4 linked regions of the Homo sapiens genome follow. The protein of the gene in region 4 interacts with the protein of the main gene of each other region in a pairwise test. Each region holds a gene or a part of one and is shown on either strand. Other genes may lie near its edges. The genes, in order: PPT1, RAB7A, NF2 and PLEKHG7.

The links.
Region 1: the proteins of PLEKHG7 (region 4) and PPT1 interact in binary tests that used the Homo sapiens proteins (3 or more experiments, as listed by UniProt).
Region 2: the proteins of PLEKHG7 (region 4) and RAB7A interact in binary tests that used the Homo sapiens proteins (3 or more experiments, as listed by UniProt).
Region 3: the proteins of PLEKHG7 (region 4) and NF2 interact in binary tests that used the Homo sapiens proteins (3 or more experiments, as listed by UniProt).

The regions. Positions count from the first base shown.
Region 1 is NC_000001.11:40,086,499-40,094,693, reverse strand, and holds part of PPT1 (palmitoyl-protein thioesterase 1 isoform 1 precursor), read left to right. Parts: intron 1-2,186; coding exon 2,187-2,296; intron 2,297-2,521; coding exon 2,522-2,649; intron 2,650-3,294; coding exon 3,295-3,365; intron 3,366-5,181; coding exon 5,182-5,284; intron 5,285-8,195. UniProt on the Homo sapiens protein: Has thioesterase activity against fatty acid thioesters with 14 -18 carbons, including palmitoyl-CoA, S-palmitoyl-N-acetylcysteamine, and palmitoylated proteins. In contrast to PPT2, PPT1 can hydrolyze palmitoylated proteins and palmitoylcysteine.
Region 2 is NC_000003.12:128,728,412-128,736,606, forward strand, and holds part of RAB7A (ras-related protein Rab-7a), read left to right. Parts: intron 1-8,195.
Region 3 is NC_000022.11:29,668,758-29,676,669, reverse strand, and holds part of NF2 (merlin), read right to left. Parts: intron 4,845-7,912; coding exon 4,722-4,844; intron 3,402-4,721; coding exon 3,184-3,401; intron 1,835-3,183; coding exon 1,729-1,834; intron 1-1,728. UniProt on the Homo sapiens protein: Probable regulator of the Hippo/SWH (Sav/Wts/Hpo) signaling pathway, a signaling pathway that plays a pivotal role in tumor suppression by restricting proliferation and promoting apoptosis.
Region 4 is NC_000012.12:92,767,794-92,772,955, forward strand, and holds the end of PLEKHG7 (pleckstrin homology domain-containing family G member 7), read left to right. Parts: intron 1-1,189; coding exon 1,190-1,287; intron 1,288-2,294; coding exon 2,295-2,402; 3' UTR 2,403-4,662; downstream 4,663-5,162.

The sequences.
Region 1 (8,195 bases), on a different chromosome or scaffold from region 4:
GGAAATGATCTCAGTCCACTTCTACTCAGTAGCCAGTTTGCTTCCTGTTCCTAGTTCTAGTTCCCTGAAATAGAAGAAACAAGTCTGGGGCTAGGACAAGATGAAGAGGCTCCTGAAGTGCAAATTTAAGGAGGCACTCACTCTCAAATTCAGGGTCAACACTTACATAAACCTGAGAATGAGTGCCTCCTTAAATTTTGTGCCCTAGAGCGGGGGTCCCAAACTCCCTGGGTCTGTGACCTGTTAGGAACTAGCCACACAGCAGGAGGTGAGTGAGCCTGCAGCCTTACCACCATGAGCTCTACCTCCTGTCAGATCAGCAGTGGCATTAGATTCTCAAAGAGCTCAAATGCTGTTGTGAACTGCGCATGTGAGGGATCTGGATTGGGTGCTCCTTATGAGAATCTAGCAAATGCCTGATGATCTGAGGTGGAACAGTTTTGAAAAATTGTCTTCCACAAACCTGGTCCCTGGTGCCAAAAAGGTTGAAGACCGCTGTCCTAGATGCTTAATTTGCCTCACCCTAGTCCTGGCCCTGAAGAGAAAACTTTGCATCTGTTCACCCCAAATATCCCCTGTGATAGGGGAAGGGAATGTGTACCTCTGCTTATTTTTCATTTGTAAATTTGGTGTCTTAATTATCCTATATGGGCTTTTTGGTTTTTTTGAGACAGGGTCTCGTTATGTTGCCCAAACTGGTCTCGAACTCTTGGCCTCAAGCAATCCTCCTGCCTCGTCTTACCAAAGCGCTGGGATGATAGGTATGAGCCCATGCTTGGCCTATATGGATTTTTTTTTTTTTTTTTTTTTGAGATGGAGCCTTGTTCTGTTGCCCAGGCTGGAGTGCAGTGGCATGATCTTGGCTCACTGAAACCTCCACCTTTCAGTTTCAAGCGATTCTCCTGCCTCAGCCCCCCAAGTAGCGGGACTACAGACATGTGCCACCACACCCGGCTAATTTTTGTATATTTAGTAGAGATGGGGTTTCACCATGTTGCCCAGGCTGGTCTCGAGCTCCTGACCTTGTGATCCACCCACCTCGGCCTCCCAAACTGCTGGGATTACAGACGTGAGCCATGACACCCAGCTCCTGTATGGACTTTTGAAGCTTGTTATTACTTGATAAACAGGAGCTAAGCAAAAAATGTTCTTTCTTCTGTTTTTTAAAATTGAGGTAAAAATTCATGTAAAGTTAACCATTTAAAATGGTACGATTCAGTGGCATTTAGTGTATTTGCAATGTTGTGCAACTAACACTTCTTTTTCAACACCCCAGAAAAACACACATAGCCATTAAGCAATCACTCCCTATTGCCCCCTCCTACTACTTCTTGATAATCTCCAGCTTAGTTTTCTGTATCTCAGTGGATTTGCCTGTTCTTTATTTATCCTATGAAAGGAATCATGCATTATGTGGCTTTTTGAGTCTGGCTTCTTTCACTTAGTATAATGTTTCTGAGGTTCATTCAAGTTGTAACATGTGTCAGCACTTTGTTCCTTTTTTATAACTCAGTAATATTCCATTGTGTGAATATACCACATTTTATTCATTCATTCATTGATGGACTGCTGGATTGTTTCTCCCTTTTGACTATTACAAACACTGCTGCTGTTAACATCTATATGCAAGTTTCTGCATGGACGTGTGTTTTTATTTCTTTGGGGTGTATAACTAGGAGTTGAATTGCTGAGTCATTTAGTAATCGTATGTTTAACTTTTTGAGAAACCACCAAACTGTTTTTCACAGTGGCTGCTTATTACATTCCCACCAGCAATGTCCAAGGGGTCCCATTTTTCTACATCGTTGACAATACTTGTTATTTTCTATTAAAAAATTATTATTAAAGACATCCTAGTCTGTGTGAAATGGTATCTCATCGTGGTTTTGGTTTGCATTTCACATGCCAGTGGTTAGCCATTTGTATATCTTCTTTGGAAAAATATCTGTTTAATTTCTTTTCCCATTTTTAAATTAGGTTATCTTTTTGTTGAGTTGTAAGTGAGTTATAGATTCCTTGTATATTCTGGATATTAAGCCCTTATCAGATAACTGTTTTGCAAATATTTTCTTCCATTCTATACATTGTTTTCACATCCTTGATAATGCTGTTTGAGGCCTCAGAGTTTTTAAACAATAAACAATATTTGGACTCATGAGTTTCCATCATTGTGTTTTGTTGGCTAGGAGACAGCTGTTGCAATCCCTTAAGCATGGGTGCTATTAAAAAAATGGTGGAGAAGAAAATACCTGGAATTTACGTCTTATCTTTAGAGATTGGGAAGACCCTGATGGAGGTAAGGCGCTTCACAGCTGTTCCTTTGAAGGGTTGCTGACTGATTTCATAGCATATACTGTTAAAATGCTTTGCCTTGTGTTTTCAGCAGCAGATCATACAGTGATACTTTCACCCTTGAGTGGCTCATGTGAGGATACCAACCTAAATGAGTTTACCTCTTAGAGAAGATGTCAGTGGTTGTTTTCAGTCCCATCCTCTCACTTCTCTCTGGCTTCTTTTTTAGGACGTGGAGAACAGCTTCTTCTTGAATGTCAATTCCCAAGTAACAACAGTGTGTCAGGCACTTGCTAAGGATCCTAAATTGCAGCAAGGCTACAATGCTATGGGATTCTCCCAGGGAGGCCAATTTCTGTACGTTCCTTTTTGTTATATTGTACCACTTATATGGAATTGATTTTTGTTTCTTTTATTCAGATAAATCCACTCCTCCAATTCAAGATTGTCACCTATCTTGGAAGGGAAATTTCCTAAAATGTTCCTGTGTAAGAAGCTTTATGGAACTTAATTTCTTTTCTTTTTTTTTTTTTTTTGAGACAGAATTTCTCTCTTGTTGCCCAGGCTGGAGTGCAGTGGCGCGATCTCAGCTCACTGCAACCTCCACGTCCCAGGTTCAAGTGATTCTCCTGCCTCAGCCTCCCGAGTAGCTGGGACTATAGGTGCTCACCACCACACCTAGCTAATTTTTTGTATTTTTAGTAGAGATGGGGTTTTACCATGTTGTCTAGGCTGGTCTCGAACTCCTGACCTCAGGTAGTCCACCCACCTCAGCCTCCCAAAGTGCTGAGATTACAGGTGTGAGCCACCATGCCTGGCTGGAGCTTAATTTATTTTCTATGAAAGTTGAAAGAAATATTTGCATTTGCCCATATCAGGAAAATCCTGAAACTCTGCGGGTTTGGGGAGTCACAGAGGATGACTAGCTTAATCTGTGATGCTGATTGTGGATGATACATTTCCATCTGACAGTCGGAGCTAAAACTCCCTTTTATTCCGTAGGAGGGCAGTGGCTCAGAGATGCCCTTCACCTCCCATGATCAATCTGATCTCGGTTGGGGGACAACATCAAGGTAACTTTGCCTCTTTGCTTTCTTTTTTCTGTATTCTAACCCACATGACCACCTGATTTAAAAAAAAATCTAGGAACTATATTTGCACAAGACATCAGCCATTCTTGCAAAATCCTGTTTCTCTAGCTTTTAACAAACTAGCCAGCATTGCTGGAGACATAGGAAGAGACTTAGGATTCCAGAGGCCTGGATCACTAGGTTGGCATCTACTTCTCTCCAATTTCATTGACACGATTGCATGGAAGTAAGATGGTTATAGCCACGTGGCAGGTGGTGGTTGAGGAGTTAGGAAAATTGAGTGACCTTTTCTGTTCTCTGATTTGGTGGTATCCTCTTGAATTTAGGCTTAGGCAAAGAATAGTGTGTAAGCTCTTGTGTCTATAAATTTAAACTCTTTGAGAAACAGCAGGTTTTCTATTTTGACGGAATTCCATACTATTGGGGAAGGATGTGTCATTAGAATGGAATTTCATCTCTGTTGTTGATGGGTATAGCTATTAGCTGGTATAATGTGGGAGCAGAATGATTCTCCGTGTAATCAGGAAACCTGGACTCACCCAATTAACTATTACTCCTAGGCAAGTAATTTGGTATCTTAGGTTCCACTCACAGATGGAAGAAACCAAAATATGGCCCTGCCTGTCCTATGGGAATTTTTCAGAGGATAAAGTGAAATAATAGGTAGGAAAATACTTTTTAAAAGTATAAGGATTATACAAACGTAAGTTGGTAAAAACAGCTTTATTATTCATTCATTTAACAAATATTTATTGAAAACCTATTATATGCCAGGAACAAGACAGACAAGGTTCTTGCATTCATGAAATATATATATATACACACACACATGTGCACATATATGCACATACATACATAGACATATATATACACATATGCACCTATATACACACATACATAGACATATATAGACATATATATACACACATATGCACTTATATACACATATATACACACACACATATATATATATACACGATAAAATGGAGGATAGCTGGGCACATGGTGGTGTACACCTGTAGTCCCTGCTACTTGGGAGGCTGAGGCTGGAGGATCATTTGAAGCCAGGAGTTCAAGACACTGTGGTGTGCTGTAATTGTGCCTGTGAATAGCCATTGCACTTTAGTCTAGGCAACATAGCAAGACCCAATCTCTTGGAAAAAAACAACAGGATACTGTTCGAAGGACACACTAGTGGTTGTAGTGCTTAAAGGAGTGGGCTCTGGGGCCAAACTGCCTGTGTCTGAATCCTGGCTTATACCTTATTGTCTAACCTTGGACAAGGTATTTAACCTCATTTTTACAGTTTTCTATCTGTGATATAGGGCAAATAATGAAATCTACTCCACAGGGTGGTTGTGAGGATTAAATTAATTATTGCCAATATTTTGCTTAGAACTATTTGTGTTACTCAAAACAATGTTATTGATGAGGATGCTAAGGATGAAGTATAACTGGGGGAGGGGAAGGAAATGGGGGTGGGTACTATTTGAGATAAGGTGGTCAGATGTGACTTGTGTAGGACCAAGACCTGAGAGCTGAAAATGCGTCCAGCCATGTGATGCAACACATCCTCCAGGGATGAGCAGGTAAAAAGATCCTTAGGCAGGAAAGAGTGTAGCAGCACCAGGAGGAAGCTGGTGATAGTATTAGTTCTCTGCGCTTTATTTTCATGAGGAATAAGTGAATGAAATCAGAGTTTGGTCCTGTTCATTTTGTTTCTCACAGTGCCTTGTGCATAGTGGGTATTCGATACATCATTATTGAAGGAGTGGATATTTGTCATCTACCACTGTAGGTGTTTTTGGACTCCCTCGATGCCCAGGAGAGAGCTCTCACATCTGTGACTTCATCCGAAAAACACTGAATGCTGGGGCGTACTCCAAAGTTGTTCAGGAACGGTATGTATGGTTAGCTGAAAAGATTACAGACCTGTCACCGTGTGAAAATATCATGCTGACTTTCATGCTCACAGTGATTCCAGCAGTAGTTCCTTGTGATATTCAAATGAGATCTTTTTTTTTGAGATGGAGTTTCGCTCTTGTTGCCCAGGCTGGAGGGCAGTGGCGTGATTTTGTCTCACTGCAACCTCTGCCTCCCAGGTTCAAGCGAGTCTCCTGCCTCCGCCTCCGAGTAGCTGGGATTACAGGCATGCGCCACTACGCCTGGCTAATTTTGTATTTTCAGAAGAGACTGGGTTTCTCCATGTTGTTTAGGCTGGTCTCCAACTTCCCGAGCTCAGGTGACCCACCCACCTTGGCCTCCCAAAGTGCTGGGATTACAGGCGTGAGCCACCACACCCGGCCTTCAAATGAGATCTTTTTGTACTATCTGCTCAATTTCATTGTAAACCTAAACTTGCTCCAAAAAGTCTATTAACTAAAAAACAAAGAAAGAAAAACAAGGGCATTTTTCTATGTAAGAAGAATGTAATTATAACAGAATAAATTTCCATCCTTAAAAAACAAACAGAAAGCCTTTAGAAAGTACTAAGCTCAAGGAATTATTGTTGGTATTTAGAGGACAGATTCTTTATGTCATTAGCTACTCCCTATATCACTGTCCCTGACTACTCAAATGTATTTGGGTATTTAGCATGGCCAGCCTGGCATAATGGCTCACACTTGTAATCCCAGCTCTTTGAGAGGCCAAGGCAGGAGGATTGCTTGAAGCCAGAAGTTCACAACCAGTCTGAACAACATAGTGAGACCCCTGTCTCTGTTAAAATCTATTTTTAAAAAAAAAAAGATGCAGAATTACTTTTGTAGTATGTGCTTGTTCAGTTGGTTCCAAACTTAATTGTATATCAGAACCACAGGGAAATTCATTAAAAATGGATTCCTGGGCTTTATCCTTAGAAGTTGTGGGCCGGGCATGGTGGCTCACGCCTGTAATCCCAGCACTTTGGGAGGTGGAGGCAGGTGGATCATGAGGTCAAGAGTTCAAGACCAGCCTAACCAACATGGTGAAATCCCGTCTCTATTAAAAATGCAAAAATTAACTGGGCGTGGTGGCGCACGCCTGTAATCTCAGCTAGTCAGGAGGCTGAGGCAGGAGAATCACTTAAAAAACCCGGGAGGCGGAGCTTGCAGTGAGCCGAGATTGCGCCACTGCACTCTAGCCTAGGCAACAGAGGGAGACTCCGTCTCAAAAAAAAAAAAAAAAAAGTTTTGATGGTAGGTCTGACGTGCTCTTGATGATAGCTGGAGTTTGGGATCAACTAATATCCTGTGGGTTTTCCAAGTGTCTCATTCTTGTCAAATAACAACTTTTTATTACAGTATATTCTTGAAGCCATTTTCCAAGATACAGCCTTGTGACTGACTCATGTTGTAACCACCTACAGCTAATAGCTGTCTTTTCTTTTCCCACTCGTTGGCTACACAAATAGCCACAAAGCTGTTTTGGGTCAGCAGTACCACCTGATGGTTATTATAGAAAACTAAGATACTCTGTACCTCTAGCTCCTTTTTTTTACCCTCAGGCTACACCAAGCTTTCCCCTTTGCCTGGTTTGATTGGCTGTGGCTAATTACAACTTAATTATTTATATTCTACATATTCTCTGTTCTCATGGATTTGCATGGTATTTAAACTTCATTCTTCTTCCTTTACTCTTTATTCTCACTCTTGCCCAGTTGCCTCCAAAACGCCTATACTTTTCTTTCTTTGTGTGAACCAAAACAACCCTTGGCGATCAGAATTCTGTTAGTGATGCTAAGTGAGCAGTCCGTCGGGGGGTGACAAGTGACACCTAAATACTGATTAAGGCGGGGCGCAGTGGCTCATGCCTGTTATCCCAGCACTTTGGGAGGCCTTGGTAGGCAGATCACTTGAGGCCTGGAGTTCAAGACCAGCCTGGCCAACATGGCAAAACCCCATCTCTACTAAAAATACAAAAATTAGGCAGGCGTGGTGGTGCACACCTGTAGTCTCAGCCACTCCGGAGGCTGAGGCTAGAGAATTGCTTGCACCCAGAAGGCGGAGGTTGCAGTGAGCTGAGATCGCACCACTGCACCCCAACCTAGATGACAGAGTGAGACTCTGTCTCAAAAAATAAAAATAAAAAATACTGATTAAAAGCTATAGATTGATGTGTTTATCTTCACTTCCTCCTTAAACTTTAATTAAGTGGTAGCAGAAGAATAAAAAGTGATAAACCCACAAGGGCAGAGAGAACAGGGAGAGAGGAGGTAAGAGATCATAAAAAATGGCAACATGTTTTTGAAAGCAAGCAAGCAGATGAATGAGTGTGAGAACTGTTTTAGCAGAGCAGATGGTGAAGGCTTAAAGTAATAAAGAGAAATCATTTTGTCTTTGTGATACTGTCCCAGGTTGCCCCTGGTATTAGGGAGGATTAATTCTGGTTGCAAGAAGAAACCCATATCAAGCCAAAGTAAATTTTAAAAGAAAGTAATACTCTGTTGGTGCCTAAAGCCTCATAGGGCCTAGAATCAAGAATTGGGAGCCATGAGGAGCCAGGGTATTCTCTCTCCAGTGCCATTGTTGCTTCTCTCTCTGTGTCGCTGCTTCTTTCTCTCCATGCAGACCAGCTTCCCCTGCCACCCACATGATGGAAGGTGGCCTCGCACGGCTTCCAAATGTTTAATTTTCTGTTAGGAGATTGTCTCAGTCTGAGGCTAGACTCTCTTTGTCCCGATTCAGATTCTTCAGGAAGGGACCATGCCCCAGCTCAGGTCAGGTCTCCCCCTCTGCTCTCATTAGCTGTGGCCAGAGAAGTGGGACCGTGCTTACTAACCATACCCCACCTCCCTGTAAACCAGTAGGCCGGGCAGGAAGAGTGCAAGAGAGG
Region 2 (8,195 bases), on a different chromosome or scaffold from region 4:
TAACCTTCAACACTCAACTTGTTTCTCCTTTTGCTCTAGTGGCATTTATTTTATTTTATTTATATTTTGAGACGGAGTTTCCCTCTTGTTGCCCAGGCTAGAGTGCAATAGCGCGATGTCGGCTCACTGCAACCTCTGCCTCCCGGGTTCAAGCCATTCTCCTGCCTCAGCCTCCCGAGTGGCTGGAATTACAGGCATGCGCCACCATGCCCAGCTAATCTTGTATTTTTAGTAGAGACAGGTTTTCTCCATGTTGGTCAGGCTGGTCTCGAACTGCCTACCTCAGGTGATCCGCCTGTCTCGGCCTCCGAAAAGTGCTGGGATTACAGGCATGAGCCACTGCGCCCGGCCGACTCTGGTAGCATTTTTTTGTTCACTCAAGAGGTAGTCCATGTCACTACTGTAATTACCTTGCACTGCCATGTCTTTGAGCAAAGGTACATTTGGCATGCTGGATTTTTTTCTTCAGCTGGCAAGAAAGTTTAATGTAGCACTGATAGTGTACTGGCCATAGTTTCAGTACCATTCTACATAGAAAAGCTGTGTTACCCTATCTCCCACAACTTTCTAGATTCCCTTCTTTAAGGGAAGATTTGGATTTTACATTTGTGGTAGAACTGCATAAGTAAACAGAGGGTGGAATGTAGAAGATAGTCTAAAAATAGTTTTATTAGTATATCCTTCTAGGTAGTTAGCAACCACTTGGGGCAATTTTTTTTAAAATTTTTTTTTAGTGCCAACTGTGTCTAAGCTCACCAACCCTGTAATCAGAGAACAACTCTTTATAGTAAAGTGTGGCTTTGAATCAGTTTTCTGACCCCACTGCCAAGTGAAGCCAAAAAATTTTGGTTATTTGATTAGCTTTTAATATGTCTTCAGCTGGGCACGGTGGCTCACGCCTGTAATCCCAGCACTTTGGGAGGCCGAGGCAGGTGGATCATGAGGTCAGGAGATCGAGACCATCCTGGCTAACACAGTGAAACCCCATCTCTACTAAAAATACAAAAAATTAGCCGGGCGTGGTGGCGGGCGCCTGTAGTCCCAGCTACTCGTGAGGCTGAGGCAGGAGAATGGCGTGAACCCAGGAGGCAGGGCTTGCAGTGAGCAGAGATCATGCCGCTGCACTCCAGCCTGGGCGACAGAGCGAGACTTCTTCTCAAAAAAAAAAAAAAAAAAAGTCTTCAAAGGGATCTTCACTAATAACGTTTTTGCTCTTACTTTGGCATTAGACTTTGTAAACAAAGATGTAGCAAACACAGACCACGCAAATATGACAGTTGTCTTATGCACATTCCTCTCTGGCATTTGACACAAATATTTTAGTTTTTCCTATGATAAAGTATTTATCTCCCCATTCATTTAATTCAACAAATACAGCTGAGATAGATTTGACCAGATGTTGGACTTGGAGCTGTAGGCAGGCTTTTCCTGGGGAGGTAAGGATTAGAAGTCCTCCTGAATAAGGCTAAACAGAGGTTCCCCTTGGCATTAAATGTCTTCTTCTGAAGGCGACTGAAACTCGAGAAATGAACTCCCCGCCTCCCCCCTTATTTTTTGGCTATTGGCTTGCTGTTGATGATTCTTACCTCTCATGTAAGGAAGGCTACCATTGTATTCTCAGGCATCCATTCCTTTGTGTTACCACATGCTTATCTGTTAATATTATCTAATAGTTCTCTATGCTTCTCTGTCTGCAGTTTGCTGCAGAAACATTTTTGCAATATGCTGATCTTTTCAGTTATTTGCTCTTAAATCTTCTATTCTGTTTTTCCCCACACTCCATATGGCATTAAAGACAGAAAAATAGTTTGTGTTTTAAAACTTTTTTTTTTTTTTTAGACGGAATCTTGCTTTGTAGCCCAGGCTGGAGTGCAGTGGTGCCATCTCAGCTCACTGCAAGCTCCACCTTCCAGATTCATGCCATTCTCCTGCCTCAGCCTCCCGAGTAGCTGGGACTACAGGCACCCACCACCACGCCCGGCTAATTTTTGTATTTTTAGTAGAGACGGGGTTTCACCGTGTTAGCCAGATTGGTCTTGATCTCCTGACCTCGTGATCCACCCGCCTCGGCCTCCCAAAGTGCTGGAATTACAGGCGTGAGCCACCATGCCCAGCCTAAAACTTATTTTTAAAACATTTCTTAATGGTGGTGGTCACTGCGATTTGTGAATCAGAGGTAAAAGTGATGTGGCGAGTGAAATCAAAACAAGTTTTTTAGCAGTGTCTGTTACCAGTTTCAATTTTAGTATCCCAGGCTGTGATTACAAAAACATATTTAAGAATAGCTACTTGCAAAATATCTCCTTGTGGGAGGAAGAAAGCTTGGGAGTTGGTTCCAATGCTGACCTACAGCATTGGCCTTGTTCATTTGCTTGAAGATGCAGTACTTAACTCATGGGGCCTGGAGTCTCTGTTTTGGTGATGGCATCACTGCTGAGAAATTTAAGTTTGCCTGATTCTGTTGTCCACTTCTGGTGTCCTGGGACTGTCTACAGTTGGGACCAAGCAAATCCAAGGGAGCCTATTTAAGGGGAGCCTGGGACAAGGGCAGTTTAGGAATTCTCCAGCCTTGCTTGTCTCTTAGTTGGTCCTTCTTGTGTGGCTGCTGCCAGATAAAGGAAAGGAAGTTCTCTCTTCTCCCTCAGCCTTTCCTTTCCAGCTTTGCTTCATACTGCTGGGCATTAACCATCTCAGATCAGGAGTCCTTTAAAAGTTACTTAGTGAAGTAAATAGTTACATCATTGATTTCCAATATTGGTATGTAAGTGTAATAAAAAGTTGGTTTCCATTGAATAAGCTTTGTAGTTTGAGTTATTTGAGAGTGCATAATTACAAAGCTGCTATGAATTAACCTTAAATAACCAAGCATAGACTTTATGAAAAATAGTGTCCCTTATATGTGGTATTCAGTCAGCCTACCAACAGTTCTTCTGTTCACTTACAGATATGAGGATCCCTGAGATAACTGCGGGTCATTTAAAACCCACTCTTAAATCCTCTGACCTGCACCATGTTAATGGTTGTTAAAAAAGCGATAACATTTTGTAGAAACCTTCCTACACATTTGCCTTTAAATGCTTTTTAATGTTTCTGTGGTATTTGTAGTTTACATGTGATTTCATTTGGTGCTCACAACTGTTGTGTGTATCTGCCTGAAATAGCTGAGGCTGTATGCTCAGGTGGCTCAGCTGGAATGTCAGTCTAGGTCTGCTAACTCAGTTCAGTGCTCTTTCTGATGTACCATCCTGCCTTTCCATTATATGCTAGTGCCCTAAAGACCACGACATTTCACCCCTTGTAAAAGTGTATCTTTCGGCCGGGGGCGATGGCTCACACCTGTAATCCCAGCACTTTGGGAGGCCGAGGAGGGTGGATCACAGGGTCAAGAGATAGAGACCATCCTGGCCAACGTGGTGAAACCCCGTCTATACTAAAAATATAAAAATTAGCTGGGCATAGTGGCATGCACTGTAGTCCCAGCTATTCAGGAGGCTGAGGTAGTAGAATCGCTTGAACTGGGGAGGCGGAGCTTGCAGTGAGCCGGGATCGTGCCATTGCACTCCAGCCTGGCGACAGAGCAAGATTCCATCTCAAAAAAAAAAAAAAGTGTCTCTTTCTTCCACTACCTTTTTTTTTTTTCTCTCTCTGAGACAGAGTCAAGCTCTGTCGCCAGGCTGGAGTGCAGTAGCATGATCTCGGCTCACTGCAACCTCCGCCTCTCGGGTTCAAGCAATTCTCCTGCCTCAGCCTCCTGAGTAGCTGGGGCTACAGGTGCACGTCACCATGCCCAGCTAATTTTTGTATTTTTAGTATAGATGGGGTTTCACCATGTTGGCCAGGATGGTCTCAATCCCTTGACCCTGTGATCCGCCCGCCTTGGCCTCCCAAGGTGCTGGGATTACAGGCGTGAACCACCACGCCTGGCCCACTACCTTTTATTTAAAATGATACGTCTTTTTTGCTGATTATTAAACTATTCAGTTAAAAAAAAAAAGCTAGGAAAATTCAGAAATATAAAGAAGGAAAATTTGTGATTCACTACCCCGAGGAAGACCAAAGTGTTAACTGGTTATTTTCTTCCTTTGAATGTATACTTTCATACCTTCCTTTAATGAGATTGAACTCTTGGCCAGGCATGGTGGTCAGTACTTTGGGAGGAGTAATCCCAGCACTTTGGGAGGGTAAGGCAGGAGGATTGCTTGAGCCCAGGAGTTCAAGACCACCTTCAGCAACAAAGTAAGACTCCATCTCTACAAAGAAAAGAAAAAATTAGGTGGGTGTGGTGGTACACTTGTGGTTCCAGATGGTGGGAGGCTGAGACGGGAGGATCACTTGATTCCAGGAGTTTAAGGCTGCAGTGGTTTGTGTTCGTGGCACTGCACTCCAGCCTGGGTGGCAGAGCAAGACCCTGTCTCAAGAAAAAAGAAATTGAACTCTCCCCAAAAATGATGTGAGAATTTAACTGTGGAGGAGACCAGATACTCTTGGGTGATGTGACCTGTGATACTTCTCCTAGTAGACACTGAATGATGAGAAGCTGGGGATCATAGGAATAGCTGTATTTTTCAAATGTTTGTTGGTAACGAGTGAGGAACCTGATGCATCCAGCTCCAGAGTAAGGTTTATTTGCCATGGTAACACTGGATAAGTACATTGTTGCCTGTATTTCCAAGTAATTTATCATTTCTGTATTTTAGTAAACATACATATATACAGAAAAGTGCACAAATAAGTGGACGGCTTAGAGAATTTTTATAAACCCAGAGGCCCTCTTAGTCTCCTTTAAGTCATTATCATCGATGCCCTGATGCTTGCGTAGTGAGTCTTCTGATTTCTAGAACTGTAGACTAATTTTGCCTGATTTGGATTTTGTGTAAATGGAATCATACACTGTGTATTCTTGCGTATCTGGTTTCTTTGACTCAGTGTTGTTTGTGAGACTTTGTGTTGTTGTGTACAGTTGTAACTGGAGTTTCCATTGCTCAGTAGTATTATGTGATATATCATAATGTATTTAAGTAAAAAGACTGAGTTTTAGGGTATGTGTCTGTATTCATTTGCTAGGGCTGCCGTAACAAGTATCACAGATAGAGTGGCTTAAACAGAAATTTATTTTCTCAATTCTGAAGGTTAGAAATCTGAGGTCAAGCTGTCGGGAGGATTAGTTTCTTCTGAAGCCTCTCCTTGGTTTGTAAATGACTGTCTTCTCTTCCCTGTATCTTCACAGGATCTTTCCTCTGTATTGGCTGTGTCCTATTCTCCTTTTCTTTTAGGACACCAGTCGTATTGGATTGAGGCCCACCCTTATGACCTCACTTAACCTCAGTTACTTCTTTAAAGGCCCTGTCTGCAAATAAGTCACATTCTGATATATTGGGGATTAGAATTTCAACTTAAAAATTTTAGGTGGACACAGTTCACTTCATAAGAGTATCTATTCTGCTCTAGTAGATATGGCCAGTTTTCAAAAGTTGTACCAGCGTATTCTTCCACCAGCAGTATATAAGAAGTCCAAATATTCCACATCCTTGCTAGCACTTGTAACTTTTTCTCTCTAATTTTAGTTCCCTCTGGTAGAAAGCCATTTCTTTATGGCACCATGGTACAGCTTGTTTACTCACCAGTGTAGGGGAACCTCAAGGGACTGGGGAAGGTTATCCTGGAGTAAAACGTGTCAGTTTGAGACTACCTCTTGTAAATGCTACTTAAATCCATTGGGGTTAAAAGCAGAGGTTCGGCCAGGCACAGTGGCTCATGCCTGTAATCCCAGCACTTTGGGAGACCGAGGTGGGCGGATCACTTGAGGCCAGGAGTTCAAGACCAGCCTGGCCAACATAGCGAAACCCTGTGTCTACTGAAAATACAAAAAATTAGCCAGGCGTGGTGGTGGGCACTTGTAATTCCAGCTACTTGGGAGGCTGAGACATGACAATCGCTCGAACCTGGGAGGTGGATGTTGCATGAGAATCGCTTGAACCTGGGAGGTGGAGCTGAGATTTCACCACTGCACTCTAGCCTGGGCGACAGAATGAGACCCTACCTCAAAAAAAAAAAAAAAAAAAAAAAGGAAAGAAAAGAAAGAAAGGAAAACACCGCTTCAGTCCAGTGAATGAGCAGTTAGTCTTCCATAGTTGCCCATAGCTTACTTTTATAGTCTGGACTCCATTCCTGGTGGTGGAATTGGCCTGTGAAAGAGTAATCTGTGGGGTGTAGATCTAACCATAGTAGATGGTGCTTTCATTCCAACTCTCTTTTTTGGTCAGACACTTGAGCCCTTAGAATATCACATTCTATCGTACATATGCTAGAAATAGGTCTGTTTTGCATATTCTGACTGACCCTTCAGATATTAGTGGGCCTTTCACCACCAGCCTTTTGGCTGCGTGATCTTCAGCTTTGTGTATCCATTATAGACCTTAGTTTGATTGAAATAATATTACATGACTTTGCCTGTCTTCCAACTCTAAGCCACTTGAGGACAAGGATGAATCATTATTCTAGAATGGATCTTGAAATATTACTAAGCTTTTGTTTAAATTTTTTCCAGTTCTAGCTTTTCAGAGTAAGTTACCGTTTATAGCATGTAAGTTATGCTTCTGGGTCAGTGGTTAATATATGTGGGTTTCCTGAATGATGAACTATGTGTTCTGTGTTCATTTAACAGGTTTTTCTTCTCTACTATAAGAAAACACTGTTGGCCCCTGTGGAGAATTATTCAGGAATAATTGTAAATACAGGGCAGATGAGAGTTACTTAGTTTAGAGTTGTTCAATGCCTGGGGTGGTGAGGGGCATGTTGAGTGGATTTTTAAATAAATTGGTAGGCAGGTGAGAGTTGGGAAACCATTATAGTTGGAAAGAATGGCATAAGTCAATGAATGGATGTAGGGATTGCAGTAGCTCTAATTTGGGAATGACTGTATGTATGGAAACCAGATCCTGGTAGGGAGGGCAGGCACTGCAATCCCTTGTTAGAGGATTTAAGTTCAACCAAGTGGCACTTCACTCTGTAATGCTGGAATAGACACAGCATAATCCTGTCACTTGAACCTCACAATTAAGTCAGATAGTACCCCAGTTATGGGTGAGGAATGGCTTTGATGTTGTAATTTGTCTAAAGAAACCATACATTAAGAGCTTAGTGGGCTAGGATTGAAATACTACAAGAGTTGTGCTTAAACTTTCAGAGAGTTGCTTCTTCAGAAGTGGCTTTAATGAAAAGTTAAACATGGGAGCTGGTTAGGGGAGGTGGGATAGAGGAAGAGAGCAGTTAGTTTGGTTTTCCTCTTTAGCCAGCCCATTGTGGGCTCCTCTTAGCAATTTATGGGCAGTCTGTTTTACTGGTTAAATGCCTGAGATAATCTAGGGTTGATATCAAACTATCGAAGATAGTTCTTATGTAACTGTTTTACTAGCTATCTGCTTTCCAGTTTGCCTTACCAAAAAGAAAAAAAGGCAGGAATCATCCTGGTCTCTCGTTAGAGACTAAACTTTTGGCTTAGTACCTGGGTTCAGAAAGCTTGATGACAGTGGTGCATCGTATTGAAGAATCTATTGATCCAGGAGTGAAGTCCTCTTCACAAGAATTGCCTTCCAAGACACTCTTCTTTGTGTAAGTTGCCTTTGCCTTTTCCCTCCCAGCAGGAATGCAGTACTCAGAGCAAAGTACATAAACAATGTCTTTACATTTCATAGAGGTTGTTACCTTGTTTAAACTTCACAATTTAAGCAGCATTTGATTTGTCTCTTTTTTTTTTTTTAGATGAGGAAATGGACTAAAAGGTCATGCTCAGTATCTTGGAGCCACTGTGTGTTAGTGGGACTGGGACTAGCATCCAGTATTCCAAGTTGACAGATAATTCTTTAATAATGGCAGAAGAATAATAGCATCTTCTGCGGAAGAACAGCCTTTGTACATTTTATCATTCAGTTTTATTTAAATGTTTTTAAAAGAGGGATTTCAGACTAGTCTGTTTCTTTTGAAACATAGATTTTCAGGTGGTGAATCTTCAAGCACTATCAGACAGAATAAGCTAGGTTATGCTGTAGTAACCAATAACCTCAAAGTGGTCAAAAAGAGCATGGGTTTTCTAGAGGCTCTGCATCATTCTTACTCCAACCAAAGGAGCAGCCGTGATAGGAGTATTGATGGCTGTCTTGGCAAAGGGAAAAAGAACTGTTGGAGGCAGTTAAATT
Region 3 (7,912 bases), on a different chromosome or scaffold from region 4:
AATTGCAAAAGAAAACAGACTAAATACTCATCCATGAGGGACTGGTTAAATAAATTACAATCCATCCACACAACAAAACATGATTAAAAAGCTGATATGGATGATCTCCTTCAGGATTGACTGCTAAGAGGAAAGAGCAGTTACAGCAGTGTATAAGCTTTGCTCCAGTGTATATTTTAAAAACAACACATATAGGCTGGGCACAGTGGCTCATGCCTATAATCCCAGCACTTTGGGAAGCTGAGGCAGGCAGATCACTTGAGCTCGGGAGTTTGAGACCAGCTGTGGCAACATGGCAAAACCCTGTCCCTACCAAATAAAAAAAAAAATTAGCTGGGCGTGGTGGTGCATGTCTGTGGTCCCAGCTACTCAGGAGACTGGGGCGGGAAGATCGCTTGAGCCTATGAGGCTAAGGTTGCAGTGAGCCGAGATTCTGCCACCGCATTCCAGCCTGGGTGACAGAGTAAATAAAACTCTCTCTCTCTAAAAAAAAAAATAATAAATAAAATAAAAAATAAAAACATAACACATCTCAGGTGTTCAGCCCAGTTGACTGCTCAGACGACTCCAGTCCCAGCTACCATCTGACTGTGACCACCAGAGAGATCCCCAGCAAGGATCTCTGTCTGGCCCAGTCAACCCAACAAGCCACCAGAGGTACTAACAAAGCCACACAGCTGGCTTGGGTGGGTTGTTACACAGTAACGGAGAACCGGGATATACGGCAACAGCAAACTGCTTACATTTTCCCCACCTCAAACCCTGGGCAGCTTGTGCCTCTGGTGCCCTTTGTGCATCTGGGTCATGTATGTGCCTGTGCCATGTGCATGAATGTAAGTATGGGTGCGTGTGTGTCCGTGCTGTGTGTGTGGATGTGCTATGTGCATCAATGTATGTATGGGTACGTGTGTGTGTCTGTGCCATGTAGATGACTGTGCTGTGTGTGAGTCTGGGCCATGTGTGCATCTGTGCCCTCACCCTGAATACCCTATGTTCTCTTCTCCACCTGGCTACTTCCTGCTCCCCCTTCAAGCATCAGTGTAGACACCACACTGAGCCTCTCCTGCTCCTCCAGGGTGGGCTGTGTCCTCCTCCTCTAGGCACCTGTGCACCCTGAGAACACCTGTCAGGATAGAGACTTCCAACTGCATGGCACTATGTGGACACTGAACAAATATGAAAAAAAAAAAAATGCCAAACTGAATGCACAGAAGAAAGGAAGGAAAGAGGCTTCTATTCATTTTGTGACCCCATTTAATGGAAGTCTGACTCTCTGTCCCCAAACTGAGAGTGGCTGCTCGTTCTTGCACGGCAGTAATTCACTCTGAGGTGTACAGCCAATCCCTTCCCAGAACTATAATTATGATATATGGTATATACTGATAGTTGAAGATTACATTCAGCTCAGCATTAAGAGGCAAGAGAGCAAATTCTCTTGAGGATAATTTGGGACTATATTACTTAGAAAAAGAAAAACATTCCAGAGCTGGAAAAGGCCCTGTTGCCTGTTATCCAGGCAACCAAAGAGACAACTAACTAGTCCAAAGCCAAATGGCAGACCAGGATGTTCTACCCAGTCCCTAACTGCAGGCTCTCTGCACCTCTCATCCAGCCATGTGTTTGCCTGAATGGTCACCCTGAAGGCACCGCCAGATGAACTGAAGGGCCGGGAGGAAAGAGAACATCACCAGGACTAAGGCAGCCCCAGCTGGTGGCCCCCAGGCTCACCGGGTACGTGGGCTTGGTGGCAATCTCCAGGAGCTTCTGCTTGGCTCTTCGCTCCGCCTCGCGTGCTTCCTGCAGGTCCTGCTTCAGCTGATCTGCCTCTTTGGCCCTGCAAGGAAAGGATGAGATGTCAGCTTCACAGAAGAGGGCAGGTAGCAGGAAAAGACACCACCCCACCCCTGCAGAGGAGGGACCTGGGCTAACCCTGAGGATGGCACCCAAAGAGGTGAAAAAGGACAGTGAGACAGGGATATTTACATGAAATCAGAACTTCCAAGCAAGGACAACATTCCTGAGGACTTTTGTTTGAGTTGGTAAATCTAAACTGGAAGAGCAGGAAAACTGGTGGGGAATGAGAGAAACCAGACCTTCTGCAGCCAGGAGACAGAGGAGCTGGAGAGGGCACCAGCAGCTTTCTCTGCTTTATTTTTGGGTGAGAGTGAGCTGGGCAAAGGAAGAACCTGGAGGATCAAAGTTCTTATATTGGATCGCAAAGGGCAGAATGTGCAAGAACTGCGTCTTCACAGCCCCCGGATAAAACACCAGTGGGCCTTGTGCCCACTTTCTCCAGCAGAAAGATGAGCCCAGTCACTGAGGGCACCCGCACCCTGGTGCAGATCCTCATCCTATGGGGCTCAGGTGGTCACGGCATGTGAGGCCTGGTGCAGGGACCTGGCCCAACCTGCATCATGCACAGGGAGTGACCCCCGAATACAGTAAGGGGCCTGAAGCAGGGCAGGCAAAAAGGAACCATATTCCCAGAACGACATGCAAAGCGTGGTGAGGAAAACTGTAGTGAATGCACCTTGGTAGCTAAAAGCCAAATTCAAGTGCTCTAAATCAACAGAGCCAAAAGCTGTGGGGAATGTGTCAGTGTTTATCTGAAGGTTGCAGGCCTAGAATAGTCTTTCAAAAGTACAGACAACAGTTCCATCCTTCAACCTGGCCATGAGTGGGACATCCCAGTCACAGAGATCATCCTAGCCCTCCTCCCCCATGTGCCAAGAAAGGCTGGGGGATGCAGGCACTAGCTTCCCTTTAAAGGTAGGCAGCTGCTGTTCTCCTGCAGCCCCACTGAATGAAAGCAGAAAAGAACCACACTTTTTTTAAATGCACAAAGAGCCTCCTCACATCTCTTCAGCTGAAAGCGGTCTGTGGATATGCTCAGGGGTTTTCCTGCACACACGGCCATCAGAGGGACAGGGGCTTATCAAAGAGACACAAGTATGACCAGAGAGGCCCCCCTGGAGGGGGAACTGAGTTCCTGTGCCCAACCAGTAGCGCCAGCCCCAAAATGGATAAAGCACCAGTCACCATCAGCCAAGGAGGAGCCTCCCCACGGCCCAGAAGATGGGCAAGCAGCTTGAGGACAACTGCTGTAGAGCTCAGCCTCAGGGCAGGCTGGTCTGCGGCCCTTCGCCAGCCTCCTCGCCAGTCTGGTGCCCGGTGCCCCCTCACCTCCTCTCTGACTCCTCAGCCATCTTCAGTGCCAGCACCTCGGCTTCCAGCACCTTCTGCTCCATCAGGCGCTTCTCCTCCTCCGTGCGAATCGCTGTGGCCTTGATGCGCTGCATTTCCTGCTCAGCCTCTGCGGCCTTCTGGGCCAGAAGTTTTGCCTCCTCCTCGGTGATCTGGGCCTTTTCAGCCAACAGGTCAGCTGTCTCCTCAGACCGCATCTGGAGGGCACAGTGCTCTTAGCTGAAGTGGGATCATGTGCTGTTCTCCCGCCCAGATCTGCCTTGAACACTGAGATGGGACAAACCAGAGTCTCGGACTCCTGGGGCCCTGCTGCTGAGTGCCCTCCATGACCCTCTGACAAGAAATGACAAGCCACATTCCCCAACTTTTCAGAAGGGCCCTTCGGGCTGCACCCATGGGGAGTAACAAGAGCACCTTCTCTGAGTACCCACCTCAGCTCAGGCTTATGCTTCACGTGGAGAAAAACAACTTAAACTCTGTTCTTTCCCTTTAAATCAGTGGTTAGAACCAGAGGAGTTTTTTGTCCCCTGCAAGAGACATGTGGCAGGTGGGGCACGGTGGCTCACGCCTATAATCCCAGCCTTTTGGGAGGCTGAGGCGGGCAGATCACCTGAGGTCAGGAGTTCAAGACCAGCCTGGCTAACATGGTGAAAACCCATTTCTACTAAAAATACAAAAAAAAAAAAGCTGGATGTGTTGGCGCGCACCTGTAATCCCAGCTACTTGGGAGGCTGAGGCAGGAGAATCGCTTGAACCCAGGAGGCGGAGGTTGCAGTGAGCCAAGATCATGCCATTGCACTCCAGCTTGGGCAACAAGAGTGAAACTCCATCTCAAAAAAAAAAAATAAAAGTACAGCTGGGCACGGTGGCTAACACCTATAATCCCAGCACTTTGGGAGGCTGAGGCGGGCAGATCACGAGGTCAGGAGTTCGAAACCAGCCTGACCAACATGGGGAAACCCCATCTCTACTAAAAATACAAAAATTAGCTGGGCATGGTGATGCATGCCTGTAATCCCAGCTGCTCAGGAGGCTGAGGCAGGAGAATTGCTTGAACCTGGGAGGTGAAGATTGCAGTAAGCTGAGATCGTGCCACTGTACACTCCAGCCTAGGCAACAGAGCGAGACTCCGTCTCAAAAAAAAAAAAAAAAAAAAGAGACATGTGGCAATGTCTGAAGATGTTTTGGATTGTTACAAATGGAGGGTGAGGTGCTGCTACTGGGATCTAGTTCCTACAGCAAAGGATGGTCAGCCCCAAATGTCAGTAGTGCCCAGGCTGAGAAGCCCTGCTATAAAGGCAACCTCGTGGTGAAAGTGGAGTTTGGCTGCACATAAGCTCAACCTAAATCTGCTTCTGCCAACACAGGTGAAAAGAAAAGGCACTGATTTTTTCAAAGCTGAAATTAAGTATTTCAAAGCAAACGCTGCTAACTCATGGTTTTCAGGAGACCAAGCTCCAGAAAAGCCAAGGAAGTCCCCAAGTAGCCTCCTGGAACCCCAGCCCCTCAGAAATCACCAGTGCTTCGTTGGCCATTGTTGCTTCTTCTTTCATCTGCAGCAGCCTCCTCTCCAACTCATCCCTCGTGCGTTCAGCCTCCTCCCTCATCTGCTTCTCTCGAGCGAGGCGCTGCCGCTCCATCTGCGAGGGGTGAAGAAAAACAGTCATTGAATCACAGGGCTCGAGACCTAGGGTGCCACAAGGGCCCAAAGATGCCCCATCTCCAGTCTCCCCTTTTGGGACCTTTTTCCTTCCCTTTCCTTTAGGTAGCCAGGGTCATTCTTATTGCCCCCCACCCCGTCCTTCTAAACCAGTTGCAGAGTTGAAAGCTGTGCCACTTGAAAAACAGTCTAGTGGTGAATGAACAAATGAACAAACAATAAAAACCTGTTGAGTCTTGACCCGGATAGAAAAAGGCATTCTTTTTTTTTGGTGGAGGGGACAGAGTTTTGCTCTGTCACCCAGGCTGGAGTGCAGTGGCGCGATCTCGGCTCACTGCAACCTCCGCCTCCCAGGTTCAATCAATTCTCCTGCCTCAGCCTCCCGAGTAGCTGGGACTATAGGCACCCGCCACCATGCCTGGCTAATTTTTGTATTTTTAGTAGAGATCAGGTTTCACCATATTGGCCAGGCTGGTCTTGAACTCCTGACCTTATGATCCACCCACCTTGGCCTCCCAAAGTGCTGGGATTACAGGCATGAGCCGCCGCGCCTGGCAGAAGGAGGCATTCTTATACACGGTGCACTGAAATGGCTACCTTGCCAATGTTGCTTTTTGTTGGGAAACCCCAGGTGGCTCTGCCCCATGGCCGATGGGATGCAATGCAGGACCTCCTCCCTCAGATAGAGCCCCAGAAATAAGCAGCTTTCTCATCTGGGCAGGCAAGCCATCTCACCATTTCTAATCCACATGGACCCCTCTCACATCTCTGATTTCATCAACAATAGCTCCACTCTTGCCTCTGACCCACAGAGAAGATGGAATCATTCTACGTGATGCATCAATAGTTCACACATTGTATTTCACAGGGGGGAGCTGCAACAGCCACAGCACAGACTTGCACAGCCTCATGTGGAGACAACTCCTGAGCCAGGCCTAGGACAGGAGGGAGCCAGGCGGGAAACACAGCCCCGTGTCCTTAAGGCAACAGCACAAAGCCACCACTACCTCCCTTGCCTTCTGGATCACTGCATTAATTGGGCCACATGCTGAGCTTAATAAGGGGAACAAGCACAAGACAGTGCCATTCCTCTGTGATCCCAGGGTACTAACTGAGTTCAAAAAGCAGAACCCAGAAGTGACCACTGCACTATTTTCTGCCTTAAATAATTAAAGCACATTTAATTACTTCTTGCTTCAATCTTATCCCACACTCTGGTCATACAAGGTTTCTAAGACTGCTGCTTTTTCTAAATCCTAAGCCAAATACACACACACACACACACACACACACACACACACAAGCTCAAAAAGATAATGCAAAGACAAGCAATAAAACAGTGAAAGTTCTTCTCCAATTTTCTCCTTGTAAGTCAATGAAAAGCTTGGCCAATTTGTTCTCTAATTTCCATCATATTACAATTTCCATAAGGTGGCTTACTACATATCTACAATTCTTTTAAAAAAAAAGAAACTAAGAAAGAAAGAAAGAAAAAGCCCAGTCAGGCCAGGCAGGCATAGCAGCTCATGCCTGTAACCCTAGCACTTTGGGGGGCTGAAGTAGGAGGAATGTTTGAGCCCAGGAGTTTGAGATCAGCCTGGGTAACATAGCAAGACCTGATCTCTACGAAACAATTAAAATTAACTAGGTGTGGTAGCATGCACTTGTAGTCCCAGCTACTTGAGGGGCTGAGGCAGAAGGATTGCTCAAGCCCAGGAGCTTGAGGTTACAGTGAGCTATGATGGCACCACTGCACTCCAGCCTCAGTGACAGAACAAGACCCTTTTATTAAAAAAAAAAGCCAGGTAATCTCCTTCAGTTCCTGGCCCTGTACTTTCCCTGAGACCTCTACCCCAATATAAAAGACCTCCTATTCACAAAAGAAGTTTACTGCATACAAAGACTGTAAGGTGTAATATACGTCCCTTCATCTGAGATGGAGAAGGTATATCATTAGTTTCACCTGATGGATGAGAAAACTAAGGTCTGGAAGGTAAGTCATTGACTTACTCACATTCTAAATTTCAGATCTGGCTCCAAGGTCAGTGTCTGTCCACCTGATCTGTGGTTGCCCAGATGCCAGGTTTGTGGCTCTGCTGTGCTGTAAGCAGTGCCGATCTGCAGTGTTCCTGCTATTCTCTGCCAGGGCCCACAGACTGCATATTCCCTGACACTTTCAGATTTCTTACTTCTAAGCTTTGCTCTGCTAAGAAAAAGGTCAAAGAAAGCTCTCCTCCTCCTTCTTATTTATTTACTTATTTATTTATTTATTTTGGTATTTTGTTTCTGCTTCTGTTTTAAAACAGGGTCTTGCTTGGTCACCCAGGCTGGAATGTAGTGGTGCAATCATAGCTCACTGCAGCCTCAAATTCCTAGGCAAGTGATCCTCCTGCCTTGGCCTCCCAAAGTGCTGGAGTTATAGGGATGAGCCACTGCCACGAGCTCTTCATGAAACTGCCACTATGACCCCATGCTGGCTCAGTAGGATTTCTTTGTCCAACAAATCCATCCCATCACCCTGAAAGCATCCCAAAGAACACATTTGTGGCCCACTACCTCAGAAAGCAAAGAGATAGAGAGCTGAAAGCACACTGGGCATTTCATTCTAAATCCTAGGGCTGGGACCAGCCTCTCCAATGTATCCAAATCAGAAAGGTGCACACAGACTAATTATTACACTTCTGAGCTTGCAAGTCCTGCGGGCAGCCAACTGCAGCTGCTGCTACTCTATCTAGTAGTTTATCCAAAAACACAATTGATATTCTCAGCAGTAAGGCCCAAATTAGTTGTGTGGATTTCCATGAGCAGAGAAGGTTTATGAGTAGAAAACAATGATGCAGATCATCCAGTCTGCTGATAGATGCTCCTGGCACCTCCTGGGGCAGGTGACATGCCATAAGGCCTGACCTGCAGTGGGGAATTGCAGCCAGAGTCAAATTAGCATTCCAGCCGCAAGCACTGAAATGCCACCTGGCATTCTATCACCATCTAATTAGAAAAGGAGAAGGCTGCACAAGGAGGCAGACAGGCAAAAAAAGAAAGCAAGCT
Region 4 (5,162 bases):
TTAATGATCAGCAAGAATATGTCACTTGCTCACTTTTTCTCTTTCCTGAAGTACTTGATGTGGGCAGGAGACAGCCCTGGCCTGTTTTTGTTTGTTTGTTTCTAAACACTGACTATAGAAAGAATGTATAGGGCGGGCGCGGTGGCTCATGCCTATAATCCTAGCACTTTGGGACGCCGAGGTTGGGTGGATCATGAGGTTAGGAGTTCGAGACCAGCCTGGCCAACAAAGTGAAACCCCCGTCTCGACTAAAAACACAAAAAAATTAGCCAGGCGTGGTGGCGGGCGCCTGTAATCCCAGCTACTCAGGAGGCTGAAGCAGGAGAACCATGTGAACCTGGGAGGCAGAGGTACAGTGAGCCGAGATCCCGCCACTGCACTCCAGCCCGGGCGACAGTGAGAGACTTCGTCTCAAGAAAAAAAAAAAAAGAGAGAAAAAAGAATGTGTAAGCTTCAGGACTGTGTTGTATTAATAATTCAAAGAAGAGACTTTCATTTTAAGCGCTCCTGCTATATTAGAAAAAGAAGTCTGCTCTCCCACTATCTTTTCTTTGAGGCCAGCTAGGAAATGACAGAACAGGCTTTCTTTTGCAAACACAGAAACCATGCCAATGTCTCTTTTTGTTTTGTTTTACATTTCACCCAGTTTGGTGGATGCTGGATTTTGAGTGGTTTTTGGCTTTTCTTGGCCTGAAGTATTCAGGTGGTTTTGTATTTTTGCCACATCTTAATTTGTTTATAAACCTTGGTTGGATGTGACTTCCCTTTAAACACAAAAATAAAATTTTTTAAAGGAGTGGTGAAGAACAAAGAAGAAAATATTATATTGTTTTGTATATTTTTATTATCTATATTTTCATACACAAAAAAATCTACCGCATATGTTTAGCTTGTTCTACGAGCAGGGGCCCCATTACCTAAGCCTTAGTTGCATTTCATCAAGTATCAGAAGTCATTAGCTAAGGAAGAAAGGGTTTTTATAGTAGAGTAGGCTTTATTTGGACATAGTGGTGGGGTCTTGGCATTGAAATAAAATTTAAAAAAAAATTATAAGCTAGATAAACCTCCCACCCTCGTTAAAACAGAAACAAGCCAAATAGAAAACAAACCCCAGATTCTTGTACTAAGAAATTGTTTGGATTTCATATGAAATGATTTGGCTTTTTGTCTTTGTAATATCTTTTTCTAGTCTTTGGGCTGAGAAATGCTTTTCTTATACAACACGAAAACAGATATCGACAGTGTATAGCAGCATTCTTATTACAAGCCCAAACGGAAAACATCAAAGTATGTATTTTAATTTTGTAGGTCTTTGATTCTTCAGAGTTTACATAAGCTCCCCCCAAGTGTCTTAAGTAACAGTGAATGGAAAGTTTTGTGTTTTTCTCTCACCCACTTGGGAAGGGCAGATTTGGGAGGAGGGGAGGGGTACATCTAGTCCATATAATGCTCAAAAGCCTCAGTATTGACAATTTCCTCACACTTGTGGGGTTGAGGAACAATTTCCTCACACTTGCGGGGTTGAGGAACAATTTCCTCACGCTTGCAGAGTTCTCCTGCAGAAGCTCAAGAACTGCCTGCGTTCTACAGTTTCTGTAGGAAATGGGGGAAGAATTGATTTGGATTGCATGATGAACCTTTAAGATGCTCCAATCAGTTTCCAAAGTGCATATAATAGGATATTAGCTTAAGGAGGGCCTGGCGCAATAATGATCCCTGTCAAGTCAGCTTGTCAACCTTTGAAAAACTGCCATTGTTTTTACAGCTATGGAGTTGAAAGAGCAGCTGCCTGACTCTGGTTTCTCTGTCTTAGAAGTTTCTATTTTTGTATTTCCCCTGGTAGGCTTTCATCATATCTACAATGTGGCCAGACAACAAATGCAATATTCAATTTCCTGGGTCACTGCCCTCAGTCTCTTTCAAGTTATACTACAGGTTAAGAACTTGTTTCCACAGAGAATAGAAATTCCAGCAATGCCACTTTCAAACTACATATATTCTCAGTGCTCATTTTTCTAATGAGTTATCATTGACTATTGTTTCTTGATTACTCATAACTGTTATCCAACATGCATACCATACTCATTTAGCCCATCTGCATTTTCCTGTAAGATTAGAAGTATTTATATTAGATGTAAGAAAGAAAATGGGAAACATATGCAAATGTTTCATTAGTCTTCAGTTTTAAAGAGCTGGTCAATAAATATAGCAGAAAATATTAGCCCAAATATGTGAGAAATTGTCAGCTTAACATTCTAATCTCTATTTATGTATTTTTTTCTTTTTTTCAACAGAAAACATGGATGGCACAAATAACAACTGCAATTTCTTGCTTTACCAAGAGTCAGGAAACCAAGAAAATATCTTTATTCACATTGCCCGCAGAATCCTCTGAAATTTAGGGACCTAAAACAAGTGGCATGTCTTTTTAGAAGATTATGGTTTAAGGTATAATTTCATTCAAAGTTTTGTAACACTTAGCTAGTGATAAGCTAGAAGGAAATTTGCATTTTAAAGAAGTTTCAGAATTTGAAATTTTGAGCTAGGAAAATCCTCAGTATAGAGGAATAATGACTGCAACAAATTTGAACTCTGAGGAATTTCTTGACAAATATATACTGACATCCAGATTACCTTCTAATGCTTCCGTCAGGTTTGTAAGAGGTGTGAGTGAAGAAAGGTGCTAATTTGTAAAGGGTGAATGATCAGATAAATGGAGTATCAGAAGGAAAACAATGTCCACTGCTTATGTCCAATATGAACTCCAGCATCTTACTCTGTATCCATAAAATAATGAAACCAATTTTCCTTCATGGCCTGTCAATCAGTCTTAACCGCTTTATAGTCCTACCTCAAACATAATGATAAATCTTTAGATACAAAGCTTGATTGTTCTTTTAATATACAAAGCAATAAATAGGGACTACATTTAAGTAGCAGTTTTAAAATTCCTATTCTCAAACTCATCTCAGGTATATAGTACTCTAACGTGGAAGTAGAAAATCCCAAAGACTAAATTCCATTACTTTAAGATAGGAAGAAAAAAAAAATCTGGCTTTCACCAGTTAACACTTTTGCATGGCTTTTCTTGGCCTGTTGTGAAGTGTACAGATTTTCATAGACATAGTAAGGTATCTGTCTCTTAACTTTATTTTTTGAAGAATGATGGTGTTTGCCATAAAAATACTTTCTGGTTTTGATTGGTGTGTGTGTGTGTGTGTGTGTGTGTTAGCACAGTACAGTCACTTAATTTTATTTGGCAGGACTTCAAATTTCTTCAGAATTTTTATCATGAAAGGCAGTTTGAATAATTATTATCATGGCAGGATATATACTATTAACTACATTCAAGGAACTAGTTCTTAGGGTCAGATTATTGCATCAAAGGGAAGTCCACAAACTTCCATTTCAGAATCGTACCTTTTGCAATTTGCAAAGTGAAAGTAGTAAATTTATCAAATTTGGCTGCAAGACAACTGAAGCCTTAGCTGATTTTGTTAAGCTGAAGAATGGGGTAGAGAGGATAATGTTTGGGCAAGTCATGTGCCCAGTAATTCCTTGAGGAAGGTGAAATTTCACTATGCAAACAAAGCAGTAAAGACAAGTGCAGCAGAAAGGCTTTTGTACAAGGCAAGCACTATTAGAATGGAGACTAATAACCTCTTTATAATAATGTCAGAAATTTAATAGAAGAAAAAAAGGAAAATCTGGAGGACAGTAACTATTGTTAATAGCTAAGAATAAATGAGGTGGAGGGGAGAAAAAGGGGAGAATAGACTTCAAGCTTCAAGTGAATTCCTAGAGATGGCATCTGGATGGGACTGAAAGCAGTTATGTCCAGGAGAATACAATATAGATTATGCAAGAGAAGATTTTATAAAGAAATTTCTGGTTAAAAAAAATTTTTACATTAACAATCATCTTGCAAATGTTTAGATATAAACTAACCTCGGAGGTGAGCAGTGGACTAGGATGAGGTGGCCTCTCAAATTCCTTTAGTCCCATGAATCCAGCAACCACAGACTTACATGTATAAAGGTAGTTTTCTCCCTCTGAATCTCATTAAAGGGAGAGACAGACTGACTAAATTAACAAAATATATAAAACAGCTCAAGAATATGCTGTACATAAACTGGAATTCTATAAAGCTCACAAAGTAACATGTCTAATATACAATATATTAGATGTTTGAGGATATGCACATTAAACTCTTTGGAGGGTTTAGAATGAAGCACATTCGAATGAAGGGATCACGGGGGTCAGAACAAAAACCATTCTAGAACCGTGGCTCCCAGGAAGAAAAAATAGCAAAAAACAATGGCACATTGGGCCTTCCAAAAAGTATCTTTGGGGAGGGGAGGGAGAAAAATAAATAAATAAATAAATAAATAATGTTTTAAGTATCTTTAAATGGTCATCTGGGTATTAAATGCAGACACACAATGAAATAAGGGGTTAATTACATATTTTTTATATTTGTTTTTAGTTTTGTTAATTCTCTACAATATTAAATGGAATGTCTAAGGCAAAATGGCATTAATAATTTCTCTTGAGATCAGGAATTTAATTACTATTCGAAATTGAACAACATTAAAACACCACTGTCTATATCCAAGTGCAAAGTCCTAATATTCTGTAAATAAATTAATGCAAAATGGTTAATACAGTGTTCTCTCTTTTGTTAGACAAAACAATTTATAGTCACAGAATACAACTAGTTTAGAAAGAAATGTTTTTAATATAATATTTAAACATATTAAAAAAAAGCAACAATTCAATAAGGATCCTTCCATTGTTCTTTATACAGATTTAAATGCTGTCACGTACTTTATCAGTTACATTTATAATTAATAACCTTCCAATCACTGAGTTTAGAAATTGCAGTATTTACTGAGCTAACCTTTCTCACAAAGTAAGGCACAACTACATGATCACAAGTAGTAAACACAATACAAATAATGAACCCAAAAACTAAATGAGAAAATGTTCATGCATAAGTATCTACAGAACTTATGAATATATGATCCAGTTCAAGGAATTACAGAATGTCATATACACAACTGCATTGTGTTACAATAAATTTATTACTTCTACACAGAAAGAACTTAGTGACTTCTAATTCTATTTTATACAATTTTACATAAATTTAGTAAGTTTATGCA